Linked DNA regions of Homo sapiens. The protein of the gene in region 4 purifies or fractionates together with the protein of the main gene of each other region. This does not show direct contact. Each region holds a gene or a part of one and is shown on either strand. Other genes may lie near its edges.

Region 1 (4,851 bases), on a different chromosome or scaffold from region 4:
TCCCTGCTCTCACGGAGCTTACAGTCTAGCAAGACAAACTAGGAACAAGAAATTACAGTCCAGTGTAGAGGTGTGCAGGGTTGTGGGGTACAGTGATTTGGCATTATACACACATTTCGCTTAAACACAATGGTATTTGTCTGAAAAAGATTTAAAAAAAGAAAAACAAATCAGTTGTTTGGGCCATTCCGCTGGCCCCTCCTTCACTCCATGAGCATAGACAAGAGGGCGGGCCCGGGCAAGCTCATGCCTCTGCTGCACCTGCGGCCTGCCTCAGTTCCCAAGCTCCCCAAAAGTGATCTTCTCGCCTAAATGTGGTTCTAACACCCCAAAACAAGTGATTTTTGCACAACACAGCCCTAACTGCAGGCCAATCACTTCACCTGGTACTCAACCAAACAGTAATGTGTTCCCACATGGGCAAGAAATGACTACATGGGACCTCAAGATGTTGGTCTTCAATAGGGCACCTTCCTTAGATTTCTAAGAGGAATTTTAATTACACTCCATTTTTATCTTAGGCACTGACCTTAGAACTGAATCCTGGAGAGAGCTGAGACTCTTCTGTGGCAGTACCATGGGACACATAGAAGTAGCCTATACCCTGGCTCTGGAAGTTGGGGACTGCCTCCTAGAAGGGCCCCTAAGACCTTAAGTTGGTGAGGGGAAGATTGAGGCGGGAGGGGGAGAAGCCTGGGCGGAAGCATGTCACTGGAGGTAGAAACAGCTCTGTGCACAGTCTGTAGGGCTAGTGAGATCAAGATACATTTAGGGAACTGGTGAGCAGAGGGCAGGGGAGATGGGGAGAACAGGCCAGGGATACTGCCAGAGGATAGACCTTGGTGAGCCTCATAACATGCTATCAAAAAGGGTGGAATTTATGTATGTATGTATTTTTTGAGACAGGTCTTGCTCTGCTGCCCAGGCTGGAGTGCAGTGGCTTGATCATAGCTCACCACAGCCTTGAATTACTGGGCTCATGCGATCAGGAGTGTGGAATTTATTCTCGGGGCAATAGTGAAGCTTTGGAAAACGTTCAAGCAGAGGAATAACAGAATCAGATATATATTTAAGAAAGTTCATCCTGAAGCATGTGAAAAGGTGCCCGACATCATTAGTCATTAGGGAAATACAAATCAAAACCACAATGAGAGCCAGGCGTGGTGGCTCATGCCTGTAATCTCGGCACTTTGGGAGGTCAAGGCAGGAGGATCACTTGAGGCCAGGAGTGCTAGACGGCCTGGGCAACATAACGAAACCCCATCTGTACAAAATGTATTTTAAAAAGAAAAAATAAAAACAAAAAACTACAATGAGATACCACTTCACACCAGAAAATAATGAGTGTTGGTGGAGATGTGGAGAAACTGGAACCCTCGCACACTGCTGGTGGAATGGAAAATGATACAGCTGCTTGGAAAAACCACCTGGTGGTTCCTGAAAAGGTTAAAGATAATTATGACTCAGCAATTCCACTCCTAGGTATATACCCAAGAGTCATGAAAATACCTGTCCCTGCAAAAACTTGTTCGGGAATGTTCGTAGCAACACTATTCATAATAGCCAAAAAGTAGGGCCAGGTGCAGTGGCTCACACCTGTAATCCCAGAACTTTGGGAGGAAGAGGTGGGCAGATCACCTGAGGTCAGGAGTTCGAGACCAGCCTGACCAACATGGTGAAACCCTGTCTCTACTAAAAATACAAAAAATTAGCCAGCGTGGTGGCACATGCCTGTAATCCCAGCTACTCTGGAGGCTGAGGCAGGAGAATCGCTTGAACCCCGGAGGTGGAGGTTGCAGTGGGCCGAGATCGTGCCATTGCACTCCAGCCTGCACAACAAGAGCGAAACTGTGTCTCAAAAATAAATAATAGAAATAGAAATATATATATATAGCCCTAAAGTAGAAACAACTCAAATGCCCATTAACCAATGTGGATTAAAAAAAAGGTGGCATACCCATAAAATGGACTATTATTTGGCAATTTTAAAAAATGAAATACTGATAGAAGCTATGACATGGATGAACCTCAGAAATATGTTAAGAAGCCAGTCACAAATAGACACATAGTATATGATCCCATTTATATGAACTATCCAGAACAGGCAAATCCACAGAGAGAGAAGGAAGATCAGTGGTGGCCAGAGGCTAAGAGGGAAGAGGGAATAGGGAGAATTGCTAATGGACTCAGGGTTTCTTTGGGTGATCAAAGTGTTTTAAAATTGATTACGGTGCTGGTGCATAACTGTAAATATACTAAAAGCCACTCAAGTGTACACTTTAAATGGCTGAACTGTATGCAAATTACATCTAAATTAAGCTGGTAACAACAACAAAGGTTCATCCCGCTGCAGTGTGCAGAATGGAGACAGGGCAGAGACCAGTGAAGAGGCTGCTGTACAAATGCAGCTGGAAAGGGCAGTGGCTGAAGAACGGAGAGGGGTTCACAGGATCAGACTACAAGGGGGCCAGAGGAGGAGACTACATCCTGAGGACGCCACAAATTATCCTGGGTACCTGGTAACTCTCCAGAGAGGAGAGTGGGAAACAAATGAGGTATCTGCAATTATCATCAAGCAGCAAACATGTATGTAAAATCTCCTACACATAAGACTAAGAGGAACACACAAAGTGTGCAGCCCTGTGCCCACATGTGTGGGGAGTGTCCAGGGTAAAATCACGCCCAGCTGCCTGCCACGGGCCTGTCCTGACTATCCATTCTTACTCTTAAACTCCAAAGAAAAGGCCTCATCATTCAGGACACACTCAAGATGTTGCAAGATCTGAGTGACTGAGAGTGGGCAGGAGGGTTAGAGAAACTAATAAGGCCAGTAACTCCGAGAAGTAAAAATCTTTAAAGCTGCCTTTCTGGGTTCTCTCTGTGTGTCTGTGAAAACTGTAAGGTTACTCGAGTGTGTATTTCTCTTGGTTACATCAAAGACCCAGTTTTGACTGCACACCACCTCCTTCCAGAATGGCTTCGCTGATCTGTAGCAGGAGACTGCTGAGTGCTGAAAGGCCGTGGAACAAATGGACCTGAGCTGCTGGTGTAAAACCAAAAGGAAAGTCTGTGAAGGAGCATATTCTAAACCCTGCAGAGGCATGCCAGCTGGGACGCTGACCACAAGACATCTTTGCCCCGTCAGTAGAAGCAGAGACTGTGCTGGGATGGGAATAAGCCCCTGTCTACACCTCATGCGCGCCCTCAGTTGTCTCCCTGGCGCCTCCTCCACCTGCAGTAGAAATTCATGCTGGCGAGCCCACTGCCGTCACAGCTTGGGAAGAGTAAACCGCCACTGAGATGCACCAACAAAGCCAGGAATTCTGGTAACAGCCCACTCAACTGCTAGACGGGAAAACTGAGGCCCAGGTCCATGGAGCAGAGCCAGGGGTTGGCATCCAGGTGTCCGATTCTCAGGCCCCCGCACTCCTCACTCTACCAACTCCCCAAACCCTGACCCTTCCTAAGAACCTGGCTCTCAGCTGTATGCTTCACAGGGAAAGAAAAGCTGAGAAATCTCAGATGTCTTAAGTCTCAACTGGCAGAGAAACCAGAACCATCTCTTTCCTAGAATCCTAATAAGAAGCTGAAATATATCATGGTTATATCCTCTAATCTCTCTAAAGGGAGGGAGAAAAAGCAAGGTTAATCAACAAAATATGGGACAATACAGTTTTTGTTGCAGCTCTCAAATCTTGCAGCCCTTTACTTCCTTTATTAATAACAGTGTTCTGCATTAATTCGTGCCACAGTGTAATCAACTATCAATGTGACCATTAGCTCCGCCACAAGTAAAGATCGACAGGATCCAGGCTGCACTGTGTGCACAACAGCCCAGGCAGGTGAAGAGTCGTGACATCGCAAAAAGGACCACGGTTTATTACCATCTCTAACGCCCATGTTCCAGCAAACCGAAGAAAAACACTGTTTCTTAAAACTGCAGAGGAATACAAAATTAAATACTACAAAACAAAAATCAGACAGGAAGACGAAACAATCTACCTCCTCCTAATGGTAAAATAATCTGAAAGGAGTTTAAAAATAAATGAACTAAAATTTTTATAACTATTATCTTTTCTGCCAATTTTGAAGATGTCTTCAGGTGCCACAACGTGGGGACAGAAAGAATAAATATCAATGTATAACTTCTAGAGTGATAATAAACAACAGGACCCCATCTCAGATGGATGGATTTTTTTTCCTACTGGAGCCAAAAAACAAGCTGAACTCTATGTACAACAGACAGACTATACAACTAGGAGCATTTAAAAATAATAAGACTCCTCTCTCTGCCTTCTTCCAAAGAATAGAATATATATTTAACAGCACAAAAGACGACACCACTTGAGCTTCCCCTTTAGCCAACAGGAAGAATTTCCACATATAAAAATTAAAAATTTAAACTTTCAAATCATTCATGTTTTAAACATAATACAGACTTAAAAATTCTTCAACATTGACCCATAATCCCACCCCAGCACAAAAATCAACCCCAAATCCAGACGTCACAGTTTTTTGTTCCTAAAAATCCCACAGCACTGAACTTGATCTTCACATCAAGCTGACAGCACGTAAGAGGCCCATGCCATGAGCAATCCCCGAGGGAAGAACGGAAGCACAGTCAATGCTGCAGCTCTTATCTACCTGGGCGGCACTGGTGCACCTCTGAGGTCAGGTCCGTGAGATTCGCCCCACACTAGGGTCCCGGAAGGGTGAGCTGGCCGCTTCCCTCCTCTTCCCCCTCGAAGGATGTCCAATAAGCACCTGGGAATTGACTTTTCTTGGGAAAAGGGTGCTGGTAACAGCTGTCAGGGCCAAGGCAATAGTGAGAAGTTCAGTTCTCTGCTCTTT
Region 2 (4,851 bases), on a different chromosome or scaffold from region 4:
CTGGCCATAAAAATATGGGACAATAAGTTGTGGAAAGCCACAAGAGGACTCTGAGGAGGAAAGTCTTCTGATCACCATTATGTTCCCATGCTCTGAGCACAACCTGCTCTCTTATCTATAAACACTGTGCTCAAGAAGAAAGACGCTCCTCTGAAGCATTGGAATGTGGCTAGATATGCAGGCTCCTAGTTAAGCCCACTCCCACCAGCTAACTAAAGATATGCTGCTTGAGCACAAAGGAGATTCACTTAAACCGCCTCTGCTACACATTACGTGTATGACGTACTGCCTCCCTTTCACAGTTTTGCCCTGAACATCTGCTTCTTAGATCTAAGTGATTATACTCAATAAATAGTGTAGAGACCAGAACTCTGGGCCTTTTGCAGCCTCCATTTTGCAACTGGCCCCCTGGCTCCCACCTTTATGAACTCTTAACCTGTCTCTTCTCATTCCTTTGTCGCCACCGGACTTCAGGTACCCTACGGATGGTGTTGAGGCTGGTCCCCTACATTCTGGTGCCCAACATGAGGCCCGAAAGAATCCAGTGAAGGCATGCTCAAGCGTGTGAAATGGAGGACCGACAGACAAAGGACTCCCAAAGACGAAAAAGTTTTAAGCTCCGCAGGTGAGCGGGGCACTTGGAGAAAGCTAGGGACACAAATGGGACAAACTGAAAGTAAGTACGCCATGTATTTGAGCTTGCTATGGCAGCTCTTGAAGCGTAGTGGTGTAAAAGTTGATACAAAAAATCTTATGGATTTGTTTTATGCTGTGGAACAATTTTGCCCTTGGTTCCCGGAACAGAGAACTTTGGAATTGAAAGATTGGGAAAGAATTGGAAAGGACCTTAAAAGAGCACAAAGAAAGGGAAAGGAAATTCCTTTGCCTGTTTGGTCAGTTTGGTCATTGGTGTGTACAGCACTGGAGGCTTTTCAGATAGATGATGAGGCTGAGTCAGAGGAGAGAGAGGAGTTTAATGATCAGGACTCTGAACCACCCCTACCAAGTACTAATAAAAAGGGAGAGTCCAGAGTGTTGCAGGAAGTCAGGGACCCCAAACAGAGGGACCGGCTGAAGCCATGGCAGAAGAACATAAATTGTGAAGATTTCATGGACATTTGTTAGTTCCCTAAATTAATACTTTTATAATTTCTTACACCTGTCTTTACTGTAATCTCTGAACATAAATTGTGAAGATTTCATGGACATTTATCACCTCCCCAATCAATACTCTTATAATTTCCTATGCCTGTCTTTACTTTAATCTCTTAATCCCGTCATCTTCGTAAGCTGGGGATGTATATCGCCTGAGGACCCTGTGATGATTGCATTACCTGTACAAATTGTTTGTAAAGCATTTGTGTTTGAATAATGTGAAATCTGGGCACCTTGAAAAGAACAGGATAACAACGATTTTCGGGGAACAAGGGAGATAACCATAAAGTCTGACTGCCTGTGGGGCCAGGCAGAACAGAGTCATATTTCTCTTCTTTCAGAAAGCGAATAGGAGAAATATCGCTGAATTCTTTTCTCAGCAAGGAATAACCCTGGGAAAACGAATGCATTCCCAGGGAGACATCTGTAAAATCGCTGCTCTGGGAGTGTCTGTCTTATGCAGTTGGAGATAAGGGATGAAATATGCCCTGGTCTCCTGCAGCACCCTCAGGCTTGCTAGGATTAGGAAATTCCAGCCTGGCGAATTCTAGTCAGATCGGTTGTCTGCTCTCGAACCCTGTTTCCTGTTAAGATGTTTATCAATATCAACGTCCAATGTGCCCAGCGGGACATGGACCTTCATCAGTAATTCTAGTTTCGCCCTGGCCTTGTGATCTCGCTCTGCCTCTCTGCCTTTGTGATATTTTACTGCCTCTGAAGCATGTGACCTCTGTGACCCACTCCCTATTCGTACACCCCTCCCCTTTTGAAATCCATAATAAAAACTTGCTGGTTTTGCGGCTCAGGGGCATCATGGAACCTGCTGAAATGTGATGTCACCCCCGGAGACCCAGCTGTAGAATTTCTCTTTTGCACTCTTTCTCTTTATTTCTCAGACTGGCACACTTACGGAAAATAGAACCTATGTTGAAATATTGGGGGCTGGTTCCCCCGATACCGGAGGTGATTTCTACCAATCCCCCCGGTCTCCCTAAACCTACACAGAAAATTGTTCAGCCCGCAGCTTCTTCAGAGAAATGTCCGGAATGGCCACCTCCTCCTCAGCTGAGTGAGTGCAGGGGGAGGGAGCCTGAAACTCAGCTTGCCGCACCCATTACTGCCCAACCTGCAGTTCACTATGGTGAAGAAGCAATTCAGGCTCACCCTGCAGCATCCTGTCTGGGTCGAACAGTGGCCGCTCCCTCAGAAAAACTTGGGGGCGTTCCATGAAATAGTTAAAAAACTACTAGAAAAAGGATATATTTCACCCACTTTCTCTCCTTGGAATTCCCCAGTATATGTAATTTTAAAAAAAGTATGGTAGATGGTGCATGCTGACCGACTTGCAAGAGGTCAACGCTGTAATGCAACCAATGGGAGCTTTACAACCAGGGCTCCCATCCCCCACCATGCTCCCTAAAGACTGGCTGCTTGTTATTATAGATTTAAAAGACTGCTTCTTTACAATTCCTTTGGCAGAGACAGATTTTGAAAAATTTGCCTTTACTATCCCTGCCATTAATAACAAAGAACCTGCAGCCAGATATCATTGGAAGGTTTTACCCCAAGGTATGTTAAACAGTTCCACAGTTTGTCAAACTTTTGTAGGCAAAGCTATCCAGCTAGTTAGAGATCAATTTCCAGATTGTTACATCATTCATTATATGGATGACATACTATGTGCAACAAAAAATAGAGACCAACTTATTCAATGTTATTCATCTTTGCAAAAGGCAATTACAAATGCTGGATTGCTTATAACACCTGACAAAATTCAAACAACTCTTCCTTTTCAATATTTGGGGATACAAGTACAAGATAGAGCCATTAAGCCTCAAAAGGTTCAAATCAGAAAAGATTCTTTAAAAACCTTAAATGATTTTCAAAAATTGTTAGGAGACATTAATTGGATTCAGCCCACCTTAGGAATTTCTACTTATGCTATGTCTAATATTTTCTAAATATTGAGGGGAGATTGCAACTTACACCATAAAAGAGAATTAACACCCAAGGCCATGAATGAGTTAAGAGTAATTGAAAAAAAAAAATTCAGCAAGCCCAGGTTAGTAGGATTGACTCAGTCTTGCCTTTTCAATTCATTGTGTTCCCTACTTCACACTCCTCAATGAGGGTTATTGTTCAAAATAATGATTTGGTTGAATGGTCTTTTTTGCCATATAATACCATGAAAACACTTACAGTCTATGTAGATCAGATCACAATTTTAATTGGACAGGCTCATATGCAAATTGTTAAACTTTATGGCACTGAGCCCAATAAGATTATAGTTCCAATAAATAAAAGTCACATTAAGCAGGCATTTATTAACTCAGTTACATGGCAAGTTAATTTAGCAGAATTTATTGAATGTATTGATAATCATCATCCTAAAAATAAAATTTTCCAGTTCTTAAAATTAACTACATAGGTTCTTCCGAAAATTACTCGTGATGCCCCTTTGGAAGGAGCCATGATTGTTTTTACTGATGGCTCCAGTACTGGGAAAGCGGCATATGTGGGACCTTGTGGTAAAGTTATCCACACTAACTCTTCCTCAGTCCAAAGAGCTAAATTACAGGCAATGATTGCAGTATTAGAAGATTTTAATCAGCCAGTTAATACTGTTTCAGATTCAGCTTATGTTGTATAAGCTACTCAGCATATTGAAACTGCCTTAATTAAATATATTATTGATAAACAGCTTTATCAATTGTTCAACTCTTTACAAACAGCTGTGTGTGCTCGGGATTTTCCTTTCTATATAACTCATATCCGAGCACATACCAATCTTCCAGGACCCTTGACTGAGGCTAATGAGCAAGCTGACTTGTTGGTTTCCCCCATACTTACTGATGCCCAGACTTTCCACTCATTAACACACCTTAATGTAACAGGACTTACAAACAACTATCAAATTATGTGGAAACAGGCCAAGGACATTGTACAACATCGTCCTCAGTGCCAGGTACTGCAACTACCGTATCAAGGAACTGGTGTTAACCCTCGAGGGTTGGCACCTAACATGATCTGGCAAATGGACGTCACCCACATTCCTGCATTTGGCAAACTTTCTTATGTCCATGTGACCATAGATACATATTCTCATTTATATGGTCTACTTGCCAAACCAGCCAGACTACAACACATATAAAAAGACACTTGCTTTCCTGTTTTACTGTCATGGGAATTCCACAAAAATTAAAAACAGACAACAGACCAGGCTACTGTAGTAGATCTTTCCAAACATTTTTAAAACAACAGAGCATTGAACACAGTACGGTTATCCCCTATAATTCTCAAAGGCAAGCGATTGTTGAGCGAGCCAACTGAACCTTAAAAATGCAATTACATAAAAAGAAAATAGGGGGAGATAGGGAATATTCCACCCCTCATATGCAGTTACAATTGGCTCTTGTTACCTTAAATTTTTTGAACATCTTCCGCAATCAGGTTACTATAGCAGCTGAAGAGCATTTAACAGGACAGAAGGTAAATGTTCATGAAGGAAAACCTGTGTGGTGGAAGGACTTTAAAACAAAGACCTGGGAAAAAGAGAGATATAACATGGGGAAGAGGGTTTGTTTGTATTTCCCCAGAAGAAAACCAGCTTCCAGTTTGGGTACCTACAAGACATCTTAAATTCTACCATGAGCAAATTTCCAAAGAAGAGAAAAGGATTTTGGAACCAAGATCTCC
Region 3 (4,149 bases), on a different chromosome or scaffold from region 4:
TTAAATGGATTAAGGGCGGAGCAAGATGTGCTTTGTTAAACAGATGCTTGAAGGCAGCATGCTCGTTAAGAGTCATCACCACTCCCTAATCTCAAGTACCCAGGGACACAAACACTGCGGAAGGCCGCAGGGTCCTCTGCCTAGGAAAACCAGAGACCTTTGTTCACTTGTTTATCTGCTGACCTTCCCTCCACTATTGTCCTACGATCCTGCCAAATCCCCCTCTGCGAGAAACACCCAAGAATCATCAATTAAAAAAAAAAAAAAAAAGTGAGACTCCATCTCAAATAAGAAAAAAAAAGATTATCTCAATCCCTACTTATACCACTATGTTTCTAAAGTGCCATTCCTACTCTCCCTCATTCCCCACATCCTTTCAGTACCTTTTCACTGTCCCCAGGTACACTTCCCGAACCACAGCAATAAAGGAAACTCATCGTAAGTAATGACCGCTTGCTTGTCAACTGGGCAGATTGGGTAGGCCACAAGCACTCACTGGTTTAGCTGCATTCTCCTTTATCAAGGAATTTAATACTTATTTATCAGGGTTTCCAGAAAAATACGTGGCCATAAACGAGTCACAATTCTGCATCTCTAATATTCAAATCCAAACCATTTTGAAAGTTCAAACTTCGAATTTCTATGTAATTCAAGACTCTCCTAGATTTATTTAACCACATCTCCAATTAATCCTGATTCATTTCTGGCCTCTACCACCTGCCCACCTATGAAATGTATCTTCCATGTTTAATTTAGAATTCTGTATATTCAGTTCAGCTTGTATTAAAAACTAAGAATTTTAAAATAGGAAAATGGAGACACACATACAACCTGCATCTGGTGGGTTAAGTATACAGATATGGCACTACTTTCTGTAAATAATGCAAATACTCAACATTTGAAAAGTTTACTGAAAACTTTTATTGTAATCAAAAAGTGACATAACAGGGTTGTAATGAATTCAGCAAATCATTCTGCTGATATTTTAGAACTTATATCAGCTTTTGCCAGGCAATTAAAAAATTCAAATGTGAAAATTTCACATTACAGTAAACTCCACCCCAACTAATTAATGGTGGTTAAAAATAATAGGCCCTAGCAAAACCTCTCATGTTACATGGTCACAACTCACAATTCTGTACAAAAGTTCGTGTTATAAAGCTCTGATGTAAAAATCAAATAATCAAGCAGCAATATTTTAAGTGCAGCACAGGGTCTTCCATGTCATTATTTACAAGGCTTGAATCTCTTTACATTATAACAAAATTTAATACAGATGACTTAGTAATTAAGTCAATTTAAAAAATCTGTCTTTTTACACAGTGACAGATTTCACTTTTTGGTCATCTTTCTCCTTCTCCTTCTCTTTATCTTTGTTCTTCTTTGACTTCTTTTTCTTGTGTTTGTGTTTTTGGCTTTTTTCCAATTCCACTTCAGTGCCTGCATGTTTCTTATGCTTCTTATGCTTTTTATGTTTCTTGTGTTTTTTCTTTTCCTTCTTTTTCTTCTTCTTCTTGCTGTCCTGACTTTCTGCTGAGCTGGCACTGCTACTGTGGCTTCGGGTCTGGCTTCCAGAAGGACTGTGGCTTCTGCTGGGGCTGACGCTGGGGCTGCTGTGGCTCTGATTCCTGCTTATGCCCACCTGGACAACTGCTGCTGTGTCCAGGCTCTCTTTTGCTTTCTCCACTATTTTATCTTTCAGGTCCTTAGAAATGTTTCCTGAAGATTCCTCTTCTTTTACAGAAACATTACTTTCACTGTCACTTTCATTATAGTCTGGTTCAAAAGCAGCTTCATCAGTTTCTCTAGTTAAGTCAGAGGAAAGTCTAGAGGAATGACTTAACTGGGGTTTAGGCTTGACAGTACTCTTGTCAATTTGCCCAGTAATTTGCTCTTTTTCAACCTGTGTCTCTGGTGGGTTAAGTATATAAAGTAGTTTATTGCCACTTGACTCTTTATTGTTCCTTGCTTCTAATACATGCTTCTCACGATCCTTACAAGGATTTTTATCTACAGATTTTGTCTCTTCATTTGGCCGTTTAGTATCATAAGTGGCTTTGTGATCATGAGGTTTTCTGTCTCTTGAGGGACTAGAATTACTTTTTTTGGAATCTCCTGTTCCTTTTTTAGGCAAATCTCTCTCTTCCCTTGGTTTATTTTTCTGTCCAGATGCAGAATCTTTATTCCGAGAAGGAGAGTCTTTTCGTCTTGTTAATTCATTCTTTTCATCTCTACGTTTGGAACTTGAATACTCTCTGGTGTCATAGTCAGTTTTTTTGTCTCTATTGGGAGTGAAGTCTTTATTTGAGGAAGCACGAGTGGAATCATGTTTATCTGACGTTCTAGCCTCTTTGGAAGATTGAGACAGACTTTTAAAATTTCCTTGTTCATTCAGACGGTCCAAATTACTCTCTTTCTCTGGCTGAGTGCTGTTCTTCCTCTTTTCAGGGTTCTCCTTTTCCAACACTGAATAATCTCGATCTTTGGTTTTCCCTTTTTCACTAGATGCAGAGTTTTTTGAACTTTTAACCTCATGTTGTATGATTTCATGGCTCACGTCCTTGGTGAATTTCTGAATTTTCTCGGATGGCTCACTTTCTTTCTCAGGATACTTGACTATATTTGATGGCTTTGTACTAACATTTTTTATAACACTAGCAGGTTTTCCTACACTTGATATAGGCTGTGTGGATTTAACATCTTCTTCTTCAGATTCAAAGTCATCTTTATCCCATTTGGATTGAGGAACCTGAATCATAATGATAACATCTTCAGCTGGCGCGGTATTGTCATTATTATATTCTTCCATCGTTTTAATCACAGTTCGCTTTGTATCTGTTTTTTCTTCAGATTTCCGCACAGGACTGCCTCCAGTTGAGCTCGTACTAAAAAGAATAACAAAATATTTTTAATTAATGAAGAATTTACTATTAATTATAAAACACTGATAAATATAAAAATGCTAACTTAAACACAAATGTCCTTTTAACATTAAAAAAAACAAAAAACTTATTCTGCCCTAAGGAAGACACACAATTTAAGATTATGATTGTATCAACACAAATGTGGCTCACCCCCAAAATCTATTTACAACCTTGTCTTTGGCAATTCCCTTCTTCAAAGACAACAAAAGACTACATAAAACCAGCCTACTTCCCTAGATCAGCATTCATAATTAATATAAAAAGCACAAGCATGGATAAAACTGAAGAAAATCCTTCTCCCAACAAAGTTCCACACCCACCCCCTACACTCAGCTACCTGGTGTAATCCACCAGAGTTGAGCTGGATCCTTCAGTTCCAGTCACTTTTCGTCTGACCTTTCCTTTGACTTTTTCTTGTTTAACTTTGCTAGATGTTGACTCCAATTTTTCAGAGGGTTCTTTTGTGTTTGATATATTTTCTGTACTTCCAATTTTCTTCCCAGTTTCTCTGTTGAGTTTGATTTTTTTGGCTGGCGCACTTAAAGAAATTTTGTCCTTTTCAGGGGTCCTATCCATTTTTTCAGTATCAGGTTCCATTTTGCGCTTTGGTGATGGTTTCACTATTTCAGTCACTTCTAGTTTCGAGATTTTCATTGAAGAAGACTCAAAATCTTTATCTACGCCTTTTTCTTCAGTTTTTCTTTTTCTTTTTTCTCCCTTATTATCAAGTGGTTTGTTTTTCTCATTAGGCTTCTTGGCCTTTTCTTCCTTAGTTGTTAGCTTTTCTGATTTGACATCTTTGGAATAGTCCTTCTTCACTTTTTCCTCTTTGACTGGTTTTGTTTCTTGGTGTTCTTTTGCTGATTTAGAGTGAGCTTTTCTGGGGGTTCCAGTGATTTTTTCATCCTTCTGAGAGGAAGATGATGATTTAGTATTGTCAGTCTTCGGAGTCTCCTCTTTGGCTTTTTTAATTGGAGGTTCAGATCGAGGAGATCTCTCACGTTCTCCATCTACTTTTTCTTGGGGTCCTTTAGCAGGTTTTACAATATTTTCTTTTTTGGACACAGCAGATCCATCATTCTTCCGTTTGGTTTTATCACCCTTTGCTTTTGGTTTATCCCTTTCTCTCTTGTCTTTTTCAGACACTGATTTAAAAGTGATTGATTCTGCATCCATTGGTTCATCTCTAACAGGTGTGGCATCATCTCTACTTGGGAGAACAAAC
Region 4 (5,428 bases):
TTGCCCAGGCTCACTGCAACCTCTGCCTCCCAAGTTCAAGTGATTCCTGTGCCTCAGCTCCCGAGCAGCTGGGATTACAGGCATGTGCCACCACACCTGGCTGATTTTTTATTTTTTTTTAGTAGAAGCAGGGTTTTGCCATGTTGCCCCTTGCCAGAATCAATTCTAATTATAGGAAAAAAGTTTCTGAGTAATCAAAATTTTGCACATATTTCTGGTGGATTTCATAGTTTAGCTTAGGAAACTTGAACTCTTACTGAGTTGGTCTGCCCATGTAGATGCCTGGTGTTGGTGTGTGCGCTCTCTTGGTTATAGAATAATCCACCCGAATTCTTCTACCATCCAGCTCCATTCCATTTGCCCTTTCCATAGCCTATAAAGAACAGGCACAAAAAGTCACGTATAATTCACCAGTCTTGAAGTAATCATTACTTAAAATTAAGCACAAAGTATATGTAATCCAAATAAACTCCTGATTTTGAAAATGACAGCAATGTAGCTTGTACAGGGCATTGTATAGACAATTCTAGACCTCAACAATGTCCAGAACACATTTAAATTTACTCAGCAGAAAGAGTAGTTAATAAACTTTCCCAAATAATTTTCCAGTTCTGGTTCAATTCCCATTCCCCACTCCATGAGATCAACAAAGAGTAGTTAACAAACTTTCCTAAATAATTTTCCAGTTCTGGTTCAATTCCCATTCCCCACTCCATGAGATCAACAGGGGAGCGGAGACTGAAGTCTTTTCAAGCTAAATTTTTTGTAGGTTGCCCAGGTAGACTGCCATTTCATACTTTCTAGTCTCCAGCGATTTCACTTACAAAGACTGACTTCAGAACATTAAAAAGGGTTTGCTAAGCTTTATACATGTTCTTTTTATAACCTGCCCCCAATCTTATTCTTTAGTTTGCAGTCTAGTACACTGATTAAGACTCAGTGAGCAGCCAAGAAGAAATGATATAAACAGACAAGAACAAATTTATCGTAATGCCTTTCAACCTTTTATTGAGACTGAACTAATAAAAGTATAATAAACTAATAAAAACTACACAATTTTTATGTATCCACAAATATTTCTCCGTAAGAGTGTCCCATAAACTAAAGGTCATTAAAAAAAAAAAAAAAAAAAAAAGGAGGTCTCACTCCATTGCCCAGGCTGGCAGTGGATCATAGTTCACTGTGGCCTCAAACTTCTTGGCTTATGCAATCCTCCAGCCTTAGTCTCCTAAGTAGCTAGGACCACAGGTTTGTGCCACCATGCTCGGCTAATTAAAACAAAAATTCTTGGTAGAGAAGGGGTCTAAACAGTATTCCATTCAATGGAATGCATTTTATTATTTATTTATGAGACCAAGTTTCGCTCTTGTTGCACAGGCTGGAGTGCAATGGCGTGACCTCGGTTCACTGCAGCCTCTGCCTCCCAGGTTCAAGTGATTCTCCTGCCTCAGCCTCCCAAGTAGCTGGGACTACAGGCATGCGCCACCATGCCCAGCTAATTTTTTGTATTTTTAGTAGAGATGGGGTTTCACCATGTTGGCCAGGATGGTCTCGATCTCTTGACCTTGTGATCCTCCTGCCTTGGCCTCCCAAAGTGCTGGGATTACAGGCGTAAGCCACCACGCCTGGCCTGCATGCATTTATTTTTGTAGAGACAAGATCTGTTGCCCAGGCTGGTCTCTTAACTCGTGGCCTCAAGTGGCCTTCCCACCTCAGCCTCCCAAATAGCATGAGCCGCCTTGCACAGCCTAATTCTTGAAGATAAGAGTTGTCTCTTTGGTCTCTTTGAAAAGAACTCTGAGAGTATTATTTGTTTCTGGGACAATTTTTTTTTCCTATTCTCTCACACACATATATATATTTGTAGAGACCAAGTCTCCCTATGTTTCCCCAGGCTGGTCTCAAACTCCTGGGCTCAAGTAAATCCTCTTGCCAAAGTGCTGGGATTAGAGGCATGAGCCACCACACCCGGTCCAATTTTTAAAAAGAACTTTACATCACATAAATGTCTGCAAAAGCAAAGCTGCAACAAATTTAACACATCTTCCATTTGAAGTTCCAAAAATCAAAATTCTCTAAGTTGATCTCCCTGCACCCCATCCTAAGCACCCCCCAAAAAAACACACACAAAATCTCTAAGTACTTCTTACTAAAACAGGGTGAGGAGCTTATATTATTATCTTCACCATATGCACACTAATAACTTTGAAACTTCAGTGAAATTTTCAGAATCAGGGAGAAGTTAGTCAAAAAGGAATACAAATTTTAAAAAGATTTTAAAAATCACTTTAGGCTGGGCGCGATGGCTCACACCTGTACTCCCAGCACTTTGGGAGGCCAAGATGGGGGGATCATGAGGTATCAAGAGATCAAGACCATCCTGGCCAACATGGTGAAACCCCATCTCTACTAAAAATACAAAAATTAGCTGGGTGTGGTGGCATGCACCTATAGTCCTAGCTACTCGGGAGGCAGAGGCAGAATTGCTTGAACCCGGGAGGCAGAGGTTGCAGTGAGCCGAGATTGTGCCACTGCCCTCCAGCCTGGCAACAGAGCAAGACTCCGTCTCAAAAAAAAAAAATCACTTTAGCCAAGTGAAGTGGCTCATGCCTGTAATCCTGGCACTTTGGGGAGGCCAAATCACTTGAGGTCCAGAGTTTGAGGCTAGCCTGGGCAATGGGGCAAAACCCCGTCTCTACCAAAAAATACAAAAATTAGCCGGGCATGGTGGTGCGCACCTGTTGTCCCAGCTACTCGGGAGGCTAAGGTGGGAAGATCACTTGAGCCTGGGAGGCGGAAGTTGCAGTGAGCTGAGATCGTGCCACCACACTCCAGCCTAGGCGACAGGGCAAAGAGCAAGACCTCATCTCCAAACAAACAAAGAAACAACAAACAAACAACAAAAAAAGAAAAAAATCAAATCACTTCAGATTGCCTGTCCCTAAAGACTGGAGACAGTCTCAGCCATACAGAAGAAACCATACAACATGCCTGTGTTAGCTGAGAATTCAGCCTGGGCAACTGAAAAGAGAAACTGTGATTTAGCTGACAAGCCTCGTCACCCCGCTCCTTAAGTAACATATTGTCACCTAGTGAACTAAAAGGAACTTCTAATCCTGCCACTAAGTAACTGCTCCTGTCTTTAAAGTTGCCAGTTAAGCTTTTTTTTCTTTTCTTTTTGAGATGAAGTGGAGTCTCACTCTGTTGCCCAGGCTGGAGTGAAGTGGCACAAACTTAGCTCACTGCAACCTCCGCCTCCTAGGTTCAAGCAATTCTCCTGCCTCAGCCTCCCGAGTAGCTTGGGGTTACAGGCGCTTGCCACAATGCCCGGCTAATTTTTGTATTTTAGCAGATGGGGTTTCACCCTGTTGGCCAGGCTGGTCTTGAACTCCTGACCTCAGGTGATCTGCCCGCCTCAGCCTCCCGAAGTGCTGGGATTACAAGGTGCGAGCCACTGTGCCCGGCCTGCCATTTTAGTTTTATCCAGAAGTGGAAGGGGACAGGTGGAATCAAGAGATAAACACGTTTCACATTAAAAAATATTAATAATAAAAAAATTACACTGTTCTGGCTTGCATTTTGCAACTTTTACTTCAGCTCAGATATCCTAGTATTTCTAAATTGATAACATGTATCTCTTAATTGAGAAAAGGAATATATAAATCACAAATACGTAACAGTAAAAAAAAAAATCATAAGACTGACAAATTAAGGCATTAAACTGCCTGTGACATAAATGACTTAAAAACTAAAGTACTAGTTTGTTAGAGTTATCCGGGGTTTCTCAACCTTAGCACTATTGACATTTTGAGACTGATTCTATGTTATGGGGTGCCAGCTTGTGTACTGTATGGTTATTTAGCAGTGTTCCTGGCTTCTACCCACCAGATGCCAAGAACTTACTGTTTTTAAAAGATAGCCTTATTTGGCCAGGCGCGGTGGCTCACACCTGTAATTCCAACACCTTGGGAGGCTGAGGCGGGTGGATCACGAGGTCAGGAGATTGAGATCATCCTGGCTAACACAGTGAAACCCTGCCTCTACTAAAAATACAAAAAATTAGCTGGACATGGTGGCGGGCGTCTGTAGTCCCAGCTACTCGGGAGGCTGAGGCAGGAGAATGGCATGAACCCGGGAGGTAGAGCTTGCAGTGAGCTGAGATCGCGCCACTGCACTCCAGCCTGGGCGACAGAGCGAGACTCCATCTCAAAAAAAAAAAAAAAAAAAAAAAAAAAAAAAAAAAAAAAAGAAAAGAAAAGAAAAGAAAAACACCCTGATTATTAAGGTCTAATAAAACTTCCAGATATATACAAATATATATATATTAATTTAAAAGACAGAAGGTCTAACAAAACTAAAAGTATTGAGCTTCAAATTCTTTAAAATGCAATTTTCTAAATCAATTACTATCAACTTTTAGTAAAGAGTAAGCGAGCCTAGGCCAGGTATGGTGGTTCACATCAGTAATTCTAGCACCTTGGGAAGCCAAGGCAGGAGGAACAGTTGAGGCCAGGAGTTGTTCCGAGACCAGCCTAAGCAACACAGCAAGACTCCCTGCAAAAACTTAAAGCAAGCCTACCACTTCCTTTATAATACCGAACATGTTAGAATAGCACTATTTCAAGTCATTGACATTGATTAGTTCATTGTGTTAGGCAAGTTAAGAATAGCACTAAAAAATTATCAATTCTTTCCATGTACTATTTTTCAATTATTGAACACACTGATAAATGAACATTTAGAGAATAGAAAAACAAGTTCCTTCCTCATTATAGACACAAAATTAAACATATCAAACCCACACATCAGAATTATTTTTTAAAAGTTAATGTAATCATCTGTTTGGAGCATCATTATGGCTTATTCAAAAGAGAACACTTACACATATACTTTTTCCATTAATTTAAACACATATAGCTCACTTTACACAGCCAGATTTCAATTAGGATATGCCTATAGCAGAGAGCATAACCAAAAAAAGTGAAACTGTAGTCACTCCAATTGTTAACACTGAGAGGCAGAGTTTGAATCAGGTCAAAATTAGAAAGGACACAACAGGCCATGTATGATGGCTCATGCCTGTAAACCCAGCATTCTGGGAGGATCACTTGAGGCCAGGAGTTCGAGATCAGCCTGGGCAACATAGTGAGACCTCATCTCTACAACAAAAAATTATCTGGGCATGGTGGCCCACACTTGTAGTGTCTGCTACTCAGGAGGCTGAGGTAGGAGGACTGCTTGAGCCCAGGAGGTCGAGGCTGCACTCCAGCCTGGGCAACAGAGCAAAATCAGCAAGATCCTATCTTTTTTTTTTGAGACGGAGTCTCACTGTGTCGCCCAGGCTGGAGTACAGTGGCGCAATCTCGGCTCACTGTAAGCTCTGCCTCCCGGGTTCGCGCCATTCTCCTGCCTCAGACTCCCGAGTAGC

The links.
Region 1: the proteins of TRA2A (region 4) and NCBP3 purify together in Homo sapiens (affinity purification with mass spectrometry; 3 studies listed by BioGRID and IntAct, with this or other methods). This does not show direct contact.
Region 2: the proteins of TRA2A (region 4) and DAP3 purify together in Homo sapiens (affinity purification with mass spectrometry; 3 studies listed by BioGRID and IntAct, with this or other methods). This does not show direct contact.
Region 3: the proteins of TRA2A (region 4) and RBBP6 purify together in Homo sapiens (affinity purification with mass spectrometry; 3 studies listed by BioGRID and IntAct, with this or other methods). This does not show direct contact.

The regions. Positions count from the first base shown.
Region 1 is NC_000017.11:3,807,850-3,812,700, forward strand, and holds part of NCBP3 (nuclear cap-binding protein subunit 3), read right to left. Parts: 3' UTR 4,806-4,851; coding exon of another isoform or gene 4,697-4,805; 3' UTR 1-4,696. UniProt on the Homo sapiens protein: Associates with NCBP1/CBP80 to form an alternative cap-binding complex (CBC) which plays a key role in mRNA export. NCBP3 serves as adapter protein linking the capped RNAs (m7GpppG-capped RNA) to NCBP1/CBP80.
Region 2 is NC_000001.11:155,694,637-155,699,487, reverse strand, and holds part of DAP3 (small ribosomal subunit protein mS29), read right to left. Parts: exon of another isoform or gene 475-4,851; intron 1-474. UniProt on the Homo sapiens protein: As a component of the mitochondrial small ribosomal subunit, it plays a role in the translation of mitochondrial mRNAs. Involved in mediating interferon-gamma-induced cell death. Displays GTPase activity in vitro.
Region 3 is NC_000016.10:24,569,612-24,573,760, reverse strand, and holds the end of RBBP6 (E3 ubiquitin-protein ligase RBBP6), read right to left. Parts: coding exon 3,262-4,149; intron 2,886-3,261; coding exon 1,316-2,885; 3' UTR 898-1,315; downstream 1-897. UniProt on the Homo sapiens protein: E3 ubiquitin-protein ligase which promotes ubiquitination of YBX1, leading to its degradation by the proteasome.
Region 4 is NC_000007.14:23,507,163-23,512,590, forward strand, and holds part of TRA2A (transformer-2 protein homolog alpha), read right to left. Parts: intron 374-5,428; coding exon 258-373; intron 1-257. UniProt on the Homo sapiens protein: Sequence-specific RNA-binding protein which participates in the control of pre-mRNA splicing.